Linked DNA regions of Homo sapiens: region 1 is linked to region 2. Evidence: fine-mapped QTL for protein levels in blood plasma. Region 2 holds a variant in brackets. A gene starts in the other region. All regions are shown on their reverse strands.

Region 1 (8,338 bases), not on the chromosome of region 2:
ACCTGGCTAGAAGCCCTGGTGACTTTGAAGAGAGAATACTGCTTGGATGTGTTCTCATTGTTGTATTTCGCAAGAGACTCGGTGGCAGCCTCCAGCACTTGGTGATTGGAAGAGTCAGTGGGTATGGAGCTTGGGCAGTCAGGGCACGTCATGTAAATCTTTTTTTTTGAAACTGTTGATGCCAATAACATAAGTTTTTAAATGCTATTAATTTTCAATAAATCATATGACTGTAAAGAGGCAAGGATGGGGTGAGGAAGTTACCTCTGGAATATACCCCTGGAATAGAAGTTAGCTGTCAGCAGTGTTTTCTGTAATGACCATGTATTACTTTCACAATTAAAAAAGAGACCAGAACAAAGCAAAGTTTTCACCTCACACACATTTACTCTGAGAATTTTGTTCAAAGACACATAATATAGTATATTAAAATAGGACCTTTTCCTCCAACTAGTTCACTATCTTTTCTCATTATTGACCCTGTAAAGTAGACTGTCTTCAGAGATTGGGATTTCATTACCGCAATATCTTATTTACCTTTCAGTTCCTAACACCGAACATCATATCTGATACATAGGCAGTGCTTAGTAAATGCTTGTAGAATGAATGGATAAGTGAATGGCATAGTAGAAGGCAGAAGCGCACCCCGTTTGGTTAGAAATGCAAGTGAGATCTGTCAAAGGATACAAAATTACAGCTAGATAGGGGGATAAATTCTAGTGTTCTGGACCACTGTAGGATGACTACAGTTAACAATAAGATAAAATTTCAAATAGCTAGAAGGGTATTGAATGTTCCCGACACAAGGAAGTGATAAAGGTTTGAGATGATGGATATACTAATAACCTAATCCGATCACAATACAGTATATATATGGAAATATCACTATATATGCCATAAATAGGTATAACTATTATTTATCAATAAAAAATAAGACTAAATATTTTTTTAAGAAGAAAAATGCAAGTGAGCCAGAAAACAAAATGGGTCAAGTCACTGTGTGACTGAGTAGAATGATCACATTAAGTACAGTCAGATTTCTGTTTGGGAGGAGCTGAGGTCAATAAGCCTAGTGTGAAAGTCAAGGTACAGAATTTATCTTGAAGCTGCTTTTGCAGAGCAAACACATTGTTTTTAGAAATTTTGTGTTTATCTGCATGCACTTGGGGACTGGTGGAGATAATGGGGGACTTCCAGCTACAGCTTGTCACTCCTGAATCATCACCACCTGTCACTTCCTGACCTCCCATAGCTCTGATACTTATGACTTCCATTTAAGTCCTGAGACTGTTTACTACTTGCTGTTCTGTGAATCTTGCCTTCACAACCAGGAACCTTAAACTGTGCCTAACAAAATGTTTGCTCGCTTGCCTTGTTATTCAAAGCAACCAGCAGCATTCTTATCTCCTGGAGCTTATTAGAGATGCAGGATCTCAGGTCCTGACCAAGACCTGTGGAATCAGAATCTACACTTGCACAGGATCCACCAGGGGAGCGACACGCACGTAGTTGTTCGACAGGGGACCAAATTCTGTTTTCCTGCACTGTGGATGCTCTCTTTCCAAAGACCTTCCCTTGAAAAAAGGAAGGTCCCAAATGAATGCATGTGCATATTTCAAGTGTCATTAAGTTTCAGCCTCATTTCTAGTCCAATTATTTACTTAACAACATTATTGACACCTTCTACTTGGTGGGAACTGAGGAAGGGTGCAGCAGGAGGAGGAAAGGAGAAACTATTCTACATGATGTAAGATATGCGACCCTCAAATCAAGGCAGTGCATTATGTGTTCCCTGAGTAGTTTAGACAAAATTTTATAGGAATGCAGATTACAAAAGCACCATTCCTTTCTAGAATAGAGAACACTGTGGAAGAAGTGGTGTTGGTCCTTAAAGAATAGGTGTGTCCCAAGGTCAGAGGTCATCAGGGGAGGGCATGCTCAGCAGAGGGAGAGGCACAAGCAAGACACAGAGACTGGAAATTGCAGTGCATGTTCAGAAAACAGGGTGGCATCCAGTAGAATGGAGTGAAGAGTTGGTGTAGTCTGGGAAATAATGGCAGAGATAGCAAGAAAGGAAGCCTGAGGGAACAGTCATAGAAATTATACCATTTATGTCAGACTGAAAATGTAAGATCTGATGCAGCATATAAATGTAGAGGTAGTTTAGTAAGATTAATTGTGGGAAGAGGAGCAGTATAGTATGAATTTCAGTAAGGAGGTAAGTACTGGAAATATTAAGAAACTGGCATTAAGAATAAACAGAAAATAAGAATGAGAGATACCCTATACATTCTTGGCAAAGACCTGGTTAAGTACTCTTTTCCATCCTTTATTAAAACTAACAAAATCGTAGTGATTTCTTACCTGGGCGAAGAGTACAGTTATAAGCAGCTAAATAGAGAACTCTACTTGGGTTGTTCATATAAAATATTGCTTTGCATTGACCATAAACCTGAAACCAACAAATGCATTTTATGACATAGCGAATGCAACTATGAGCTTTTAAAATACCTCCAAAATTAAAGTCAGACATTTTCTTTTAAAGTAGTTAGAAACTTAAGATCAAATTCTGTGGTTTTGGCTGGGAGGAACTGCAGTTGATGATCAAACTGTTTAACCTTTCCCTAGGACACAGCTAGAATATGTTTCCAAGCCTCCCCAACACGTGTGACTGTGTATAATTGAGTTCTAACCACAGGAAGGTGAGCAGAAGTGAGGTGTAACCATTTCCAGATCTGGCTCATAAGGGTCTCCCACGTTCTCACTGTCCTCTATGCTCTTTCTCTGTGCACAGCTTGATGCAGATGAGCAGGTAACCATGGAAGTCGTGAGCTGAGGCTGCAGAGTCTAGAGCCAGAGTGTGGAATAAACTTGGGTCTCAAATCACCCCTGGAGCAAAGCACCCATCTAATCAGGAACTTCTACTTTCAACTTTACATGCGTGAGAAATGAACTTCTATCATGTTAGAGTGAGTATACAGTTTTTGTGTCTGTGTTTTAGTAGCTAGTGTCACCATAACAAATATAATTCACAACAGGATATTCACTTTTCAAAATCAAGTTGGGTACAGTTTGACCAATTGGCTACATGATTAGGAAAATATCTTGATCAAATAGTTTTCTTCTAAACACTTACATCACTATTCTGTACTCACACTGTAAAGTTTTATATCAATTACTGAAAATCATCCCAGGATAATTAAGAATGAAATGAAATGGATTATCTATTTTCAAGTCTCTTCTATGATCATCTTTAGAAGATTAATTCTGAGGCCCTTTATTATGCTCTGTGGTTTCAGGAAATCCTTACACGGCGCCCTTGAGAGCTTTCATACTGCAAGTCATCCATTTTCCTCCCCTCAAACCTGGCATCGGAGTTTATTGAAACAAAGCAAAATAAAACAAATAGACAAAGCTCTACCTCCATCACTTCTGCAGTCTACATTAACCCCACGTCCAGAATATTCACACCTCAGGTCTTTTTCTCACAATTGAAACACTGGTTCAGAGCCTAACGGAAGGTCTTGGAGGTAAAAACACAACTTGGGGCAACTTTTCCATTCTGTTCTGCATGACCCCAATGGGACTTCTCAGAAACCCCTCTCATGAATTAAACTTTGTTCTGTCTAGAGCATTAGAATAAGCTTATGGGCACCTGCCAGGAGATTATAAAGTGGGCCATTTAAAAGATGACAGATATTGAGCACCCTTGACCCTGTAGAAAGAGTGTACCTACTTGCTTTCCCTAGGGCCCTTAATGGTTTATAAAAACAAGCACTCACTGATTCAAAAAATATCCTCATTCCACAGTCTTGCCATGCCTTCTTTCTGAGCACATGGCAGTCAGTCTCTAGCACATCCAGTGTAAGATAGAACAGAGATCCCAGGCCACCCTGTGGGAAGGGGTAGAGAAATGCAATACATTTCACAGGAAGTAGAAACCTAGAAAGACCACACAAAAAAACCCCTGCTTTATGGCAAAGCCAAAGAATATTTGTGAAGATTCCCCGTAAACCATTAAATCTGACACAAGTGTCAGAGTAGGATCACTGTTAACACTTGTTTTTACTAACAATAAGTGCGTTGTTGCTGACCCTGGCAGAGGAGAACAGAGAGTTCTCGGCAGGGCTTCCAATACAGAAAACACCTGCCAGGGTGTCTCTGGGTTCCCTCACCCTGGCCAGTCTCTCCAGCTTGCCCACATCCCTGCCCCAGAGTGGGAACTGTCCCTACTTGCCCGTCTGTATTCCTGGGCGTCGTTCACTCGGTTGAGTCTCAGCACATAGCCATCCTTTCTGTCTTTGTTAATATCCCGCAGGGCAAAGCCTGCAACTGCCAGCACATCTGAGTCATTGCAGCCCCGGGAGAGCAGAGCCGAGGGGTTGAGGGCCAGCTGGGGTGGAGACATTGCTCCGCAGCACAGGACTAGGATGCAGAGTGCCAGGGGAAGGAGCAGACCCATTCTGTGGAGAACAAGGCCCAGGATGGGTCAGTTTGTGGAGCTGCAGGGACTGGCTGGCTTGTAAGGCTCTTTAAGGCAGACTTGAGCGGTTTTGTTACAACTGGAAGGGCTAACCAAGTTCACCTTGAATTCTGAACTTGGATTTTCCTAAGTCAGTACTTTGGATAGCATTTCCCAATGATTCTAACCTTAGACCCTTGAGCAACCTCATATCCACCTGTACATACAAATGAATTTAAGTTTCCCAACTGTTTCCTGAGAAATCATAACATTTGTTCAAGGCTCTTATGATTAGATTCTGATTTGCAGGTCCCCTCCTGAATAGGAATATGGAGGACTGTCCCATTCTCCCCCTCTCCCCTAACACCTTTGCTGTGGAGGTCTCCTTGGCCACTCTAATAGTTATCTTATGTCCCAGTGGTGCTTGGTGAATTCAGACTTCCTGGCTGACACTCTGTGTGCAAAGCCCTTGTTAGATCAGGGAGGTAGTTGAACCCCACAGTCATCTGCCAGAAGCACAGTTGAGATTCCTTAAGCACTTTGGCCATCTGGGTGGAAAATGTTCTACTTATCATCATTTAAGTTATTTTTAAACAATGACTTTACTTAAGGGGAAAAAGTCAAAGAGATATAAAAAGTTCTCACATTGTATTTCAAGCCTATTCTTCCTTTTATGCATATGTATGGAAGCAAGCTCATTAAGAGACTAAAGCCCCATACTCTTGCTAAAAGAAAGATACTGAAGGGCAGGTGGGTGGCAACACATTGGTTGGGACTCTTGCCTTCTTTTTTTTTTTTTTTTTTTAGCTTCTATTTGTGATTCAGAAAGGTTCTACTTATTGGGACCATACAAAAGACAATTATCTTTTAAAAACTGTATTTCAACAAAAAACACATATCAGCAGTAGTTTGTCATGAGAGAAAAGAGACAAAATGGGAAAGAAGCCTCTAGAAGAGGTTATCATGAAGGGCATTCTATAAAGCCCTAGTCCATGAGGTGAGTAACCACCCCCTAACTCTCTCCCTACTCCTAGCCCTTCTCTTCCTTCCTGTCCCTGTCCAAGGATTCTGCATTCAAATAAGTTTAGGAACTGCTGAATCCTTCTGTGTGCTTGCTGGTACACAGTGGTGGCTATTGTGTAATGCTGAGAGGATTATCCTATCCTGATGAGGGCTCCACCCTCATGAATGGAATATGCCATTATCTTGAAAGTGAGTTCCTGATAAAAGGATGTGTTTGGTCCCCTTCTCTCTTCCTTTCACCTGTGTGATGCCTTCCACCATGTTATGATGTAGCATGAAGGCTCTCAGCAGGTATAGCCCCTCGATCTTAGACTTCCCAGCCCCCCAAACCATGAGCCAAAGTAATTTCTGTTCATTATAAATTCCCTGGTCTCTGATATTCTGTTATAACTACATAAAACTAACTGAGGCACAGCCCTAATTAATTTCTGGAGAGAAATAGTTTTTGAGGATTGATTGAAAAACCCAAATCTAAAGATCCCAGCTCTGTGGATGTGGGCTGTAGGCATTGTTTTCAAATAGGAACGATACTAGCAAAATGGGTACAGAAACCAGACATTCAGATTCTGGGGCACAACAAAGGTTTAGCTTCAGCCAGTGAGGAGACAAACATTCATTGAGCTTGAGCAACGTACAGAAAGAGGTTGAGAAGGATCTGGGGCCTGAGGATGCAGAACAAAGAGGAGGAGAATGGTCTGGGACCTGAGGAATATATTAGACTTATATAGGTGAAGGCCATGAGTGCAACTAAAATAAAAGGCAGGACTCAAACAGATAAAAAGATCCAATAACATGGAAATCGTGCACCACCACTTATGCACCTGGGTTTCAACCCAGTCTCAAACAACCTGAGCTGGCCTTCTCCTAGGCTGTGGAGTATGGGAGCCCTGGGAGAGGAAGCAGGGGAAGAGTCCAGCCTTTGGTGTCAGGCAGTCTTGGGTTTAAATTCCACCTCTTCCACTGCACGGTAAGAGGGCCTGTGACACTGGGTGTGCCACACAGCATTTTGTTTCCTTATTCATAAAACAATGGCACTCCCAGCATATGTATACATGCACAGTTGCACCTGCCTGTAGAAAGAGAATAGAGTTCCTCTTTCCCTAGAAGCCCAACCCAGGTACACTTGTGTTTGGTTCCCATCACATATGGGAACAACTTTAGTATCAGCATGGAAGTTAAATTTCTGCTCAGGAGTGAAGAACAAGGCTGTGGAGATAGATCAATCTAGGTTTTGTTGAATCCAGTGTGTCTAATAGAAATACAATGCAAGTTACATATTTAATTTTAAAATTTCTGGTATCTGCATTCGAAAAGTAAAAAGAAACAGATGATATTAATTTTAACAATATTTTGCTTAACCTGTCAATCCAAAATATTATAATTTCAATATGTGATTAACATAAAAATTATGAAAGGCACAGTTTACATTCTTTGTTTCACACTATGGCATACCCCAATTTGGAGTAGCCACAGTTAAGACGCTCAAGAGTTGCATGTGGGTACCTTATCAGACAGCCCAGGTCTAGCTCTTGGGAGCCTCAGGCTCCTCCCATGTAAAAGGAAGGTAGCAGGATTCTCCATCTCCTGAGGTTGCAATATGGACTTATCACAGGGGAAGTATGCAAAGGTGCTTAGCACAGCCCTGGTGCACAGGACGTCCAGAGACAATGTCCAAGGACAGCTGTCAGTGCTGTGACTGTACCCTGTGGTCCTCACTTTGTCTCCCACGGTGCAGATTCTTATGTGACTCTGCCAGTGGCCTTTTTCTGGTTACACTTGAATGGATGCATCGCCAGGTGAACCAGGTTGGGAGAAACAAGGCTGATTTTCCCTGAGTGAGGAGGGAGAGGCAGGGGGCTCCCTGGCCTGCCCACCTCCTGACACAGGTGTGATCCAGGGCAGTGACTTAGGATTATTGATTTGAGAACAGGGAGAGATCAGACAGGTGAGACATTGTTGGCTGCAGAGCTGAGAGAGACACAGCACACGTGATTAGGCATCTGGGGAATTAGAAATCTAGGTACCAAGTCTTGGCCTAAGGGGACAGGATGTGTACTTAGCAAAACTGGACGGCAGCCATGGCTCCAAAATACCAGGTGGGAGCTGCCTGGTACATGATGGTCTCTACAGCTAGTTGCTGTGTTTCTCTCTCTCTTCCCTTTCCTCCCTTTATCTTTTCTTCCTTCCACAAACACTGAATGAACATCTCCTCCAACCACTGCCAAAGCCCGGCACTATATATGAAACTGATATTTCTCAGTGTGTGCCCAGCCCTGTGCTAAACACTCTGTGTTCCTTCTCTCATGTAAGCCCATGACCAACCGAGGCCTGTAGGTGCCACTATTATTCCCATTGTACAGATAAGGAGGCTGAGGAACAGAAAGGTTACATTGCCTGCCTGAGGTCTTACAGCCAGGGTTTGCATCCAACCTATGTGGCTTCAGAGAAGAAGGCATGGTTCTTGCCCTCAAGGAGTGGATGCTAGGAACGCACCAAGGGGAGAAACTAGTTCTACTGGGGAAGTCAAGACAGGCTTCCTAGAGGGGGTAACATTCACTCTGGAGCTTGAAGGAAGAACAGAGTATGCCTGAGGCACAAGGCAGGGAGCGTATTTAACAGAGCGTTCACTTTTCCTGCAGGAGCTGTAAAGGCGAAAACTGTAAATCACGTCGTTTACTTTCTATGTCCTTGCAACTTTCGCAGCTGTCTCCTCTGTCATTGGGATAGTATTTGCTGCTCCCAAACCACCTGCTAGCCTCAGGGCTACCTTGTGGCAGTTTCTCCTTGACTCCTTCCTGAAGTATCCTATGTTTGGAATCTCCCTCTTCCTCTTACTTTTATCAGCCATATTTA
Region 2 (8,338 bases):
GAGCATGTTTTATTTAGCTTTGGTTACCTCCCTATCCCCTATCCCTGTCCCATCCTACCCACTTCCATGTCTCTCACCTTTCTCCCCAACTTGGTTCTTCACCCACTGGGCAGTCCTCTTGACATTCTCTGGGTCGGTCACATCCAGAAGCACAGTACGAAGTCTCTCTGAGGTTTCTGCCTTTAAAGCTGTTGATCCTGATTCAGTCAGACAGGCAGCGATTACATGAAATCCCTTTTTATCAAAAGTTCTGGCTGCCAAGTTTCCAAAGCCCGAGTCACATCCAGTGATAAAAATGTACTTATCAGTGATGTCTTCAATCTTTAGTTTTCCTTTACGAGTCCACAGAAAACCACAGAGGATTAGGAGGCCTAGCACCCAAAAGAGCATTTTTCCCCCTGTGTGTGATAGGTACACTCCTTTCTTGTATAATACAAGAAGATGGTGTCCTGAGTGTTCAAAGTGAAAAAGAAAATTCAAATTAGAACTACCAAGGCATTATAACCCAGGACTGATGAATTTGAGATATTTTAATGCATTAGTGTGGATAAATAGAAAGTTAAAGAAACAATAACTCTTATTTGGTTGTTTGTTGGGAAGATGGCCATCTAAATGATAAATCGTTCCTCTAAAGTAATGCAAAAACTAACCAAGGAGTATTCAGAGAAATTAAATGGAAGAGAGGGAGAGGGGAGCCATGGCAAAATTGACACAAGCCATTGAGTTGCCACGGCCAGCTGGAGCTATGTGGAGTGATGGTATTAATCTCAGGAGTGAACTCGTCTATCAGGAAGACAGACCCTCACAGTAAAATCTTACCTCTTGCTAGTTCATGAAATTCCACTGCAGAATGGGCTTAAAATCTATTAGAAACAATAATTCAATTTTAATTGTTCTGTCAGACTCCCAATTATCTTCAAACTGTCAGGAGAAGAAGAGCATTTTTTGTTGCCACTAAGATATTCCCAACTTGGCTTCCATTTTCTTATTTTAAATGGGTTAATGTCAATCTTCAACCCAACTCTGAGATCATTACACCCCAATGCAGATGAGTATTAAAGTGGGAGGCAACAAGTGAGTTCACCAAGAAAGGGCAAGATAAATGGGAAGTGACTGAGAGGGAAATGCTGGCCAATGCACCATGTCCCAAACCAGACTCCCACATCCCCAAATTCTGTCTTCTGTGAACACCAGTCTCCTGTGAGAAAAAAATCACATGGACAAAGGATAAAGCCAAGCAAATGTATGCTGTAAAACGGAAGCTTTGACCATATGTGCAGCAGAACTACTTGGAAAATTAATTTTGTCAGGGCTAGAGGTAGCCTAGGGCCTAAAATCAGGCAGGTAGAGGGCTTTCTTTCCTTTTTCTTCAGAAGCCTGCATCTGCGTTTCCCCTCAGCATATATTACTCTTACCATGGGGTACTGGTGCCAGAGAAAAGCAAGCCATCCAGAAAGAGGAAGTGAACAAGAACCTGAGGTTTATGCCTGGGTGCCAAGGCTGTATGGCCAGCTGCCTCAGGTCTGAGTACCATGGGCCCAGCCCTCCACACTCAGTGATGGGGCAGCCCAAGAGAATGAGATCATCAGCTCCCTCCCCACAGAGGAGCAGGTCTGTGTTGGCTCTCTGAGCCTGTGGAAGGGAGAGGGGCTAAAGAGAGAACCACATGTGGGAAAGACCTTATTTTCTTCCTCCATGACCCAAAAAGCTTCCTCCTGTGTCCACGCAATATCTTTGCCCTTAATCTTGACCCACCCTGAGACTCCAGAGGGGCTTTAAAATGCCTCACAGAGGACAATCAATAGGCCCTGAGTTGAAGTTCAGAACTTGTGGGTGCTTTTGGAATCATGGCTGTTCCTGGACACTGAGTTCAAAAAGGAACTGAGAGGCCAAGCGAGTTTATAGACTTTGGACTTTATTTTCTTTCTTTCTTTCTTTCTTTCTTTCTTTCTTTCTTTCTTTCTTTCTTTCTTTCTTTCTTTCTTTCTCTCTCTCTCTCTCTCTCTCTCTCTCTCTCTCTCTCTCTCTCTCTCTCTCTCTCTCTCTCTCTCCCCCTCCCTCCCTCCCTCCCTCCCTCTCTCTCTCTCTTTCTTTCTTTCTTTCTTTCTTTCAGATGGAATTTCGCTGTTGTCGCCCAGGCTGGAGTGCAGTGGTGCAATCTCGGCTCATTGCAACCTCCACCTCCTGGGTTCAAGAGATTTTCATGCCTCAGCTTCCTGAGTAGCTGGGATTACAAGCACCTGCCACCATTACAGGCACCCGGCTAATTTTTGTATTTTTAGTAGAGGTGGGGTTTCTCCATGTTGGCCAGGCTTGTCTTGAACTCCTGGCCTCAGGTGATCCACCTGCCTCGGCCTCCCAAAGTGCGGGGATTACAGGCGTGAGCCACCACGCCCAGCCTGGACTTTATTTTCTTACAATTATTTCCTAATTTTTCCTTCGAATCCTTTTCAAAAATCATTTATTTTTTTCTGCTTGTAAAAGTAATTTATCCTCAAGAAAAAACATAGAAAAAAAGAAGATAGTAATGATTATAACACTTGATTCAATATTTTAGTGCATTTTCCCCATTTTCTTCTGTATTTGTAAAGTTTTCTTTCTAGATCAAGAAATATAAACATACACACAGAATTTTAAACACCACACACACAGACACACACACACTATTTTTACTGCTGTTTGAGAAACAGACTATTTCAGATTAAAAAAAATCAATGTAATGTCTTCTTCACTTCTCAAGAAAATTTCGGGCTCTGCTTTTATCTTTCTTCCCCCAGAAGATCTATAGCTAAAGAAAAAAAAAATGATAAAAGAATTGTCAGTTCAGCCGGGCCTGGTGGCTCACTCCTGTAATCCCAGCACTTTGGGAGGCAGAGGGGGGCAGATCACAAGGTCTGGAGTTTGAGACCAGTCTGGCCAACATAGTGAAACCCCATCTCTACTAAAAATACAAAAAATTAGCTGGGTGTGGTGGAGGGTGCCTGTAATCCCAGCTACTCAGGAGGCTAGGGCTGGAGAATCAGGCAGGAGAATCAGGCAGGAGAATCGTGAACCCAGAAGGTGGAGGTTGTAGTGAGCCGAGATCATGCCATTGCACTCCAGCCCTGGCGACAGTGCAAGACTCTGTCACAAAAAAAAAAAAAAAAAAAAAAAAAAGTCAGTTGATAAAAATTAAGTCAGAGGAATATAAAAATATGTTTGGAGAACCTACTTGATTCTTGTGGTATAGCTACAGCTATTTCTGAAGTAGTCAACTTTTTAGATTACCATGGCTTAATAATTTGGTATAGTTTTTCCAACTCTTTTCTGTGTAAGAGTTATAATTTGTTGCAAATCAATGTCCATGTAGCAAGATTTCCCGTTCTCAAATACATTATAAATGTATAATTATGGGAGGGGAAGTGGTATAACTAACTCTTGCAAAATTACATGTTTAAACCTTTTAAGGAAATTTTGTATCTACAAATTCAACTAATATAGCGTTTTGCTCAAATCTGGCTTCAGTAAATAATCACCGAAAGGCGAAATGTTTAATATATTTTCTGAATGGATTCTGCAGCTTTCATTGCAGTCTAAACTCCCAGGGGAATTATTTGAAGAAGACAAATATTTGTGGGGTTTTATGTTCTCTAGAGCAGAGAGTTGGAAGTTTTTGTGTTGTCATTTTTACCAGGGGCATGCACGAGGGAGTCACAGTAAAATAATGTCATACATTAGTAAGGCACTCTATGCTGTGCTTTCACACACAGGTCTCATTTTGTCCTCTCAATAGCGTTTTGAGTTAGAGAGGGCATATTATTTGCCTTAGAAACTGGCTCAAAGCAACAAAGTGATTTGCCAAGGTCACTGGGACTAGAGTGCTGTGTCCTTCCACTATAGGAGACAGATGAGGGGCTCTGGGGACTGGAGCACTCCACTCTGGGCTGGGCTGAGAAGTGTCCAAGCTGACAAGCTGAGTTGATAAGGTCGACACTTCACATCTTGTCCATGATTGCTGAGAGGCAGGGATAAAAGTCCACTGGCCAAAAGCAACATCTGACATCTGAAATAGTTGTGGCTACAGAGTCATCTCCCCTCATAACCTCCTCTGTTATAGTATAATAACTGACACAAGGTCCCAGAGGGGAAAGTAGATGAGGGAATGGGGGAAGGGAAGCCACAAGGAGGGTATGTTTCATGCATGTTCCTGTGCATGAAACTGGGTTACCAGCCCCTAAGGGATTGAATTCAGTTGGATGGATGATTTGGGCATCTATGAAAGCTTCTCAGACAAAAGGGTGCCATTAGAACTTTGAGAGAGTCTGTGGATAGAATTCAGGGGTTTCTACATTTGGATGGGAAAAAGATCCCATCTTTTTTTTTTTCCTGAACTGTAATTGAAGTTTAGCACAATCTTCAATTACGGAAGAAACAACAAACCGCAGTAGTATTTGTATTGCCTGTGATTTTGTTACCAATAGAAATAATAAATATTTTCATGTTACATTGCATTTGTTGGAATTATCTCAAAATATGATTAATGCTGATTACTACTTCAAAATTATGGTGGTTATTGTTCCTGCCACCATGTTAATAAAATAAACTTATAAATATTTGGATGTATTTCAATACAGTAGTTTTCTTTTGTAATACTATGTATTTCACTTCAAGTGTTAAAAAAGTTATTCTCACTTCTGAGGTAGCTGTAGTAGTGACAGTCATGTCAATCCAAATTTCCTAGGACGTACTCCAAAAACTATG[C/T]ACAATTCAAAGAGAAGAACAAATAGAATCACATAAAATCCAAGCCTCCACCAGAGCTAGAAAACAGACAACCCTATTATTTCAAATTATTTGATTGAGAAAATAAGCACAGCTGACATCTGAACAACGTGGGCTGTTGGATCCCATATTGGATCCAAACTGCCTGGATCCACTTATGTCTTATTTTCTTCAGCCTCTGCCACCCCTGAAACAATAAGACCAACCTCTCTTCTTTTTTCCTCCTCAGCCTACTCAACATGAAGATGGTAAGGGTGAAGACCATTATGATGATCCACTTCCACTTAAAAAACAGTAAGTATATTTTATCTTCCTTATGCTTTTCTTAATAATATTTTCTTTTCTCTAGTTTATAAGAGTACAGTATATAATACATATACAAAATATGTGTTAATTGACTATGTTTTTGGTAAGGCTTCTGGTCAACAGTAGGCTGTGAGTTAAGTTTTGAGGGAGTCAAAAGTTATACATGAATTTTCGACTGAATGGGGCACTGGCGCCCCAATCCCTGTGTTGTTTAAGGGTCAACTGTAACTAAGCTGTGGATGATGGAAGCCAGGCTTCACACTGTCAGAAGGAGGAGTAGCAAATATGAAAAAGGAGAGGCTGGAATGAACTCTGTGGAGTGGGATTATAGTTGGAAGAATCAGTATGAACTCCTGGTTTTTAATATGAGTCAGTAAATACAAAAATGGATAGGTAACTTTCTAGATCTACCCGATGAGCTAGAAACAATGACACTCCAACAACAATGAACATACCAAGGGCTCAGAAACCAATTTCTAAACATTGTGTTCATGTTCTTTGGAAAAGCTAACATCAGGGCTGAGCTTGGAGGCGAATGTACAAAATAAGCCTGGAGCATCTTATGCTACAAGTAAGTAAGTGCTCAACGAATGCTGGAGATACATCACTAGTACATAGATGTCAGCTGGAAGGGGCTCCCACTGGCGAAGTAAGAGACAATTTGAGCATCAAAGCCAATAGTGATAATGGGTAATAACTCATTAAATCAGATATGAATTCATGAATCCATTCTGAAGTAAATCAATCAATAAATAAGGATAAATGGAAATTTTTCCTTAGAATTAATATGCCATCTAATAAGTGTCAGACGAATGATGGAATTAGAATATCACCATTTGGCAACTGACATAGCAACAATGGTTTCAGGCAGGAATGATCAATGGATGCTAAAACTAGTGGGTCAAATTCCGATGACAGACAGTCATTATAGAATCTCAAAGAATCTCCCTGTCATATACTTTCAAATTAAAGAGAGAATAATGGTAATTTTATAGTGGAGAAATCTGACGGATACCACCTTAACCAAGTGATAAGGATTCACATCACTAGTTATGGAACAAACCAACATCGCATGCCCCCTGAGATGGCACACAGGGAAGGACACAACAGCTCTTCTGTGGAGCATCCAAAGCTAATTATGCATGGGGAAACATCTTCCAGTGCTTCTAAATATATGGCTGTACTCTTCAAAAACATCAAAGTCATGAAGTAAAAGAAATACTGAGGACCATTTCAGATCAAAGGAGACCAACGAGATACAACAACCAAATGCAATATGTGATCCTGGATCAAAATTTTTTTTTCTTTTTTCAGAAAGAACATTATTAGGCCAGCAAGTGAAATTTGAATAAGATCTTAAAATTTGATAAATAGTATTGCATTAATATTAATTTCCCAATTTTGATAATTATACTGTGATGATGTAGAACATGGCCTGCTTTTTAGGAAATACACACTGAAGTATTTAAAGAGTAAGGAGCATCATGTCTTCAACTTACTCTCAAACAGTTAAGAAAATAATAATGATATGTATATAAATAAACATTAAAACCACACATGCACCTATGTATATAGAGAGGAATGAGAAGGCAGATGTGGTAAAGTGTTAATATTTGAGGAATCTGGGTTGTCCTAGTCTCTAAATTTTTCAATAATTCTGAAATTATTTCAGAATAAAAAGTTAAAAATTTGGCAAAGGAAAGTAAAGCTTTTTTTTCTGTGAAAAGATTTTATTAGGCTACTTTGGATGTCATGCACAAAATAAGTAAGAACCCCAGACTTTTGGAGTGTAGTAACTTGTATACCACATTGCCTGTCATCTATGCTTTGGTAAGCTCACCTCTACAACTACCAAAGAAGAACGAAAGCTCAAATCTAAGTAGTTGGATTCCCTCTTTACTCCTTGTCCATTCTGCTTCCCCCTCAATCTCCACCTTTTCTATGCAAACCCATTTTTCCCTGGTGACAAGCAAAGAGGAAATTTTGCTGTTAAGAATGGACTCACATTAAAATGTATTGTCCTCATTAGGTACAGCTCTGGACTGAGGGTCATTTAGGCCTACAGTCTGAATCCTAGGGACTGCCAATGCTAACCTAGAGTTTTGCTACACTCTCCTTAACTCAAGTATTATTGCCCAGAAATGCTGGTTCAGATTCCTCTAGATCACTCGACTAAATCAACCACAAACACACACATATCTTTGACCTCTAGTAATATTTTAGCCACGATGCCAACTCTGAGCAGCAACCTGGGTCAGAGCCATGGGAACATGACCTATACACAAAGCTGATTGATGGCCAATTGGTTCATTGACCACTGAGAAATAAATTAGTAACAGCAACTAAAAGGCTAATAGGGCTACCTCAACCACACTACGCCAGCTGTGGTTACCTCTGCACGGCCCCTTGGTCCCAACAATTCAGAAACTCCAGGAACTGACCTGGTTGCTTGAGTTGTTTGCTTATCTGCTGTGTCTTCCAATTTATCGCACAACAAATTGCTTAATAGGGCGTAAATCTCTTGGCTCGAGGCAGTAGAGCAGTAGTTAGGAGCCCAGACCTCAGAAGCAAGCAGGCAGAGGTTCCATCCCAGTTTCACTATCATCAGAGGGCCCTCGGACAAATTAACTTTTCTTAGCCTCCATTTTCCTACCTGTAAAGTAGAAATACAACATCTACCTTGGAGAGTACTGGGTGAAGTGACCTAATGTCTGCCGTTACAGTAAGAACTTTGTTATCTTCATGGCAGGGTGAATCACTTTCACTTTATGAGGCAGTCTGCTCTATGTATTGCTCATATTTAGGCATTGATTCCTCTAACTGAGTAATTTTGATATTTTGGGCCAGGTAATTATTTGTTGTGGGGTCAGTCCTGTGCATTTAGCATGTTTAGTGGCATCTCTGGCCTCTACTCTCTAGTCAGCAGTAGCACCCCTCCCCAAGTTGTGAAAACCAAAAATGTCTCCAGATAATGCCAAATGTCCCCTGGAGGACAAAATATCCCCCAGTTTAGAACCACTGTTCTAGAACTTCCTAGTGTTGGGAGTCCAGAATATCATAGCACTAGAACTACTTTTCTGGAAACTTAGTCATTGGTTCCTTGGTAGTATCACATTGATGAGTTTCTTTTTTTAATGGCCTCATGGAAAAGTTGGGTTACTTATAAAAATTACTCATATCCTGCTGCTGCAAGCATTAATTTCCCTCTATATAAATATTTTAAAATGTCTTTTTGTCATCAGGAGGATAAGAGGCTGATATGGTTTGGCTCTGT

Which allele goes with the higher level. Positions count from the first base shown, and alleles are read on the strand shown. Strength reflects both the effect of a copy and how common the allele is.
For the plasma level of the protein whose gene starts at base 4,524 in region 1, C is the high allele of the variant in region 2 and T is the other (weak association).

What was found. A credible set is the group of variants that fine-mapping cannot tell apart. PIP is the chance, under the fine-mapping model, that this variant and not a neighbour inherited with it causes the effect. Protein levels are from antibody-based Olink assays in UK Biobank. Linkage for the fine-mapping came from a reference panel and not from the study's own genotypes, which makes the PIPs less certain.
Region 1: FETUB starts here. The variant in region 2 is the best candidate, but not a certain one, in a credible set for the plasma level of the FETUB protein (UK Biobank, PIP 0.79).

What each region holds. Positions count from the first base shown.
Region 1 is chr3:186,636,585-186,644,922 of GRCh38, reverse strand. It overlaps FETUB (fetuin B), which reads right to left and starts at 4,524. Exons shown (of 7, transcript NM_014375.3): 1 at 4,238-4,524; 2 at 3,783-3,893; 3 at 2,365-2,452; 4 at 3-172. The coding sequence starts at 4,462. It overlaps HRG-AS1 (HRG and FETUB antisense RNA 1), which reads left to right. Exons shown (of 3, transcript NR_187317.1): 2 at 2,795-2,969; 3 at 3,300-3,414.
Region 2 is chr2:169,073,634-169,081,971 of GRCh38, reverse strand. DHRS9 (dehydrogenase/reductase 9) reads right to left here. Exons shown (of 5, transcript NM_001376924.1): 2 at 78-449. The coding sequence starts at 390. Among named protein-coding and RNA genes, the nearest start is that of DHRS9, 8.2 kb to the right of the region's middle. The variant C/T (reference allele first, on the strand shown) is at 4,741.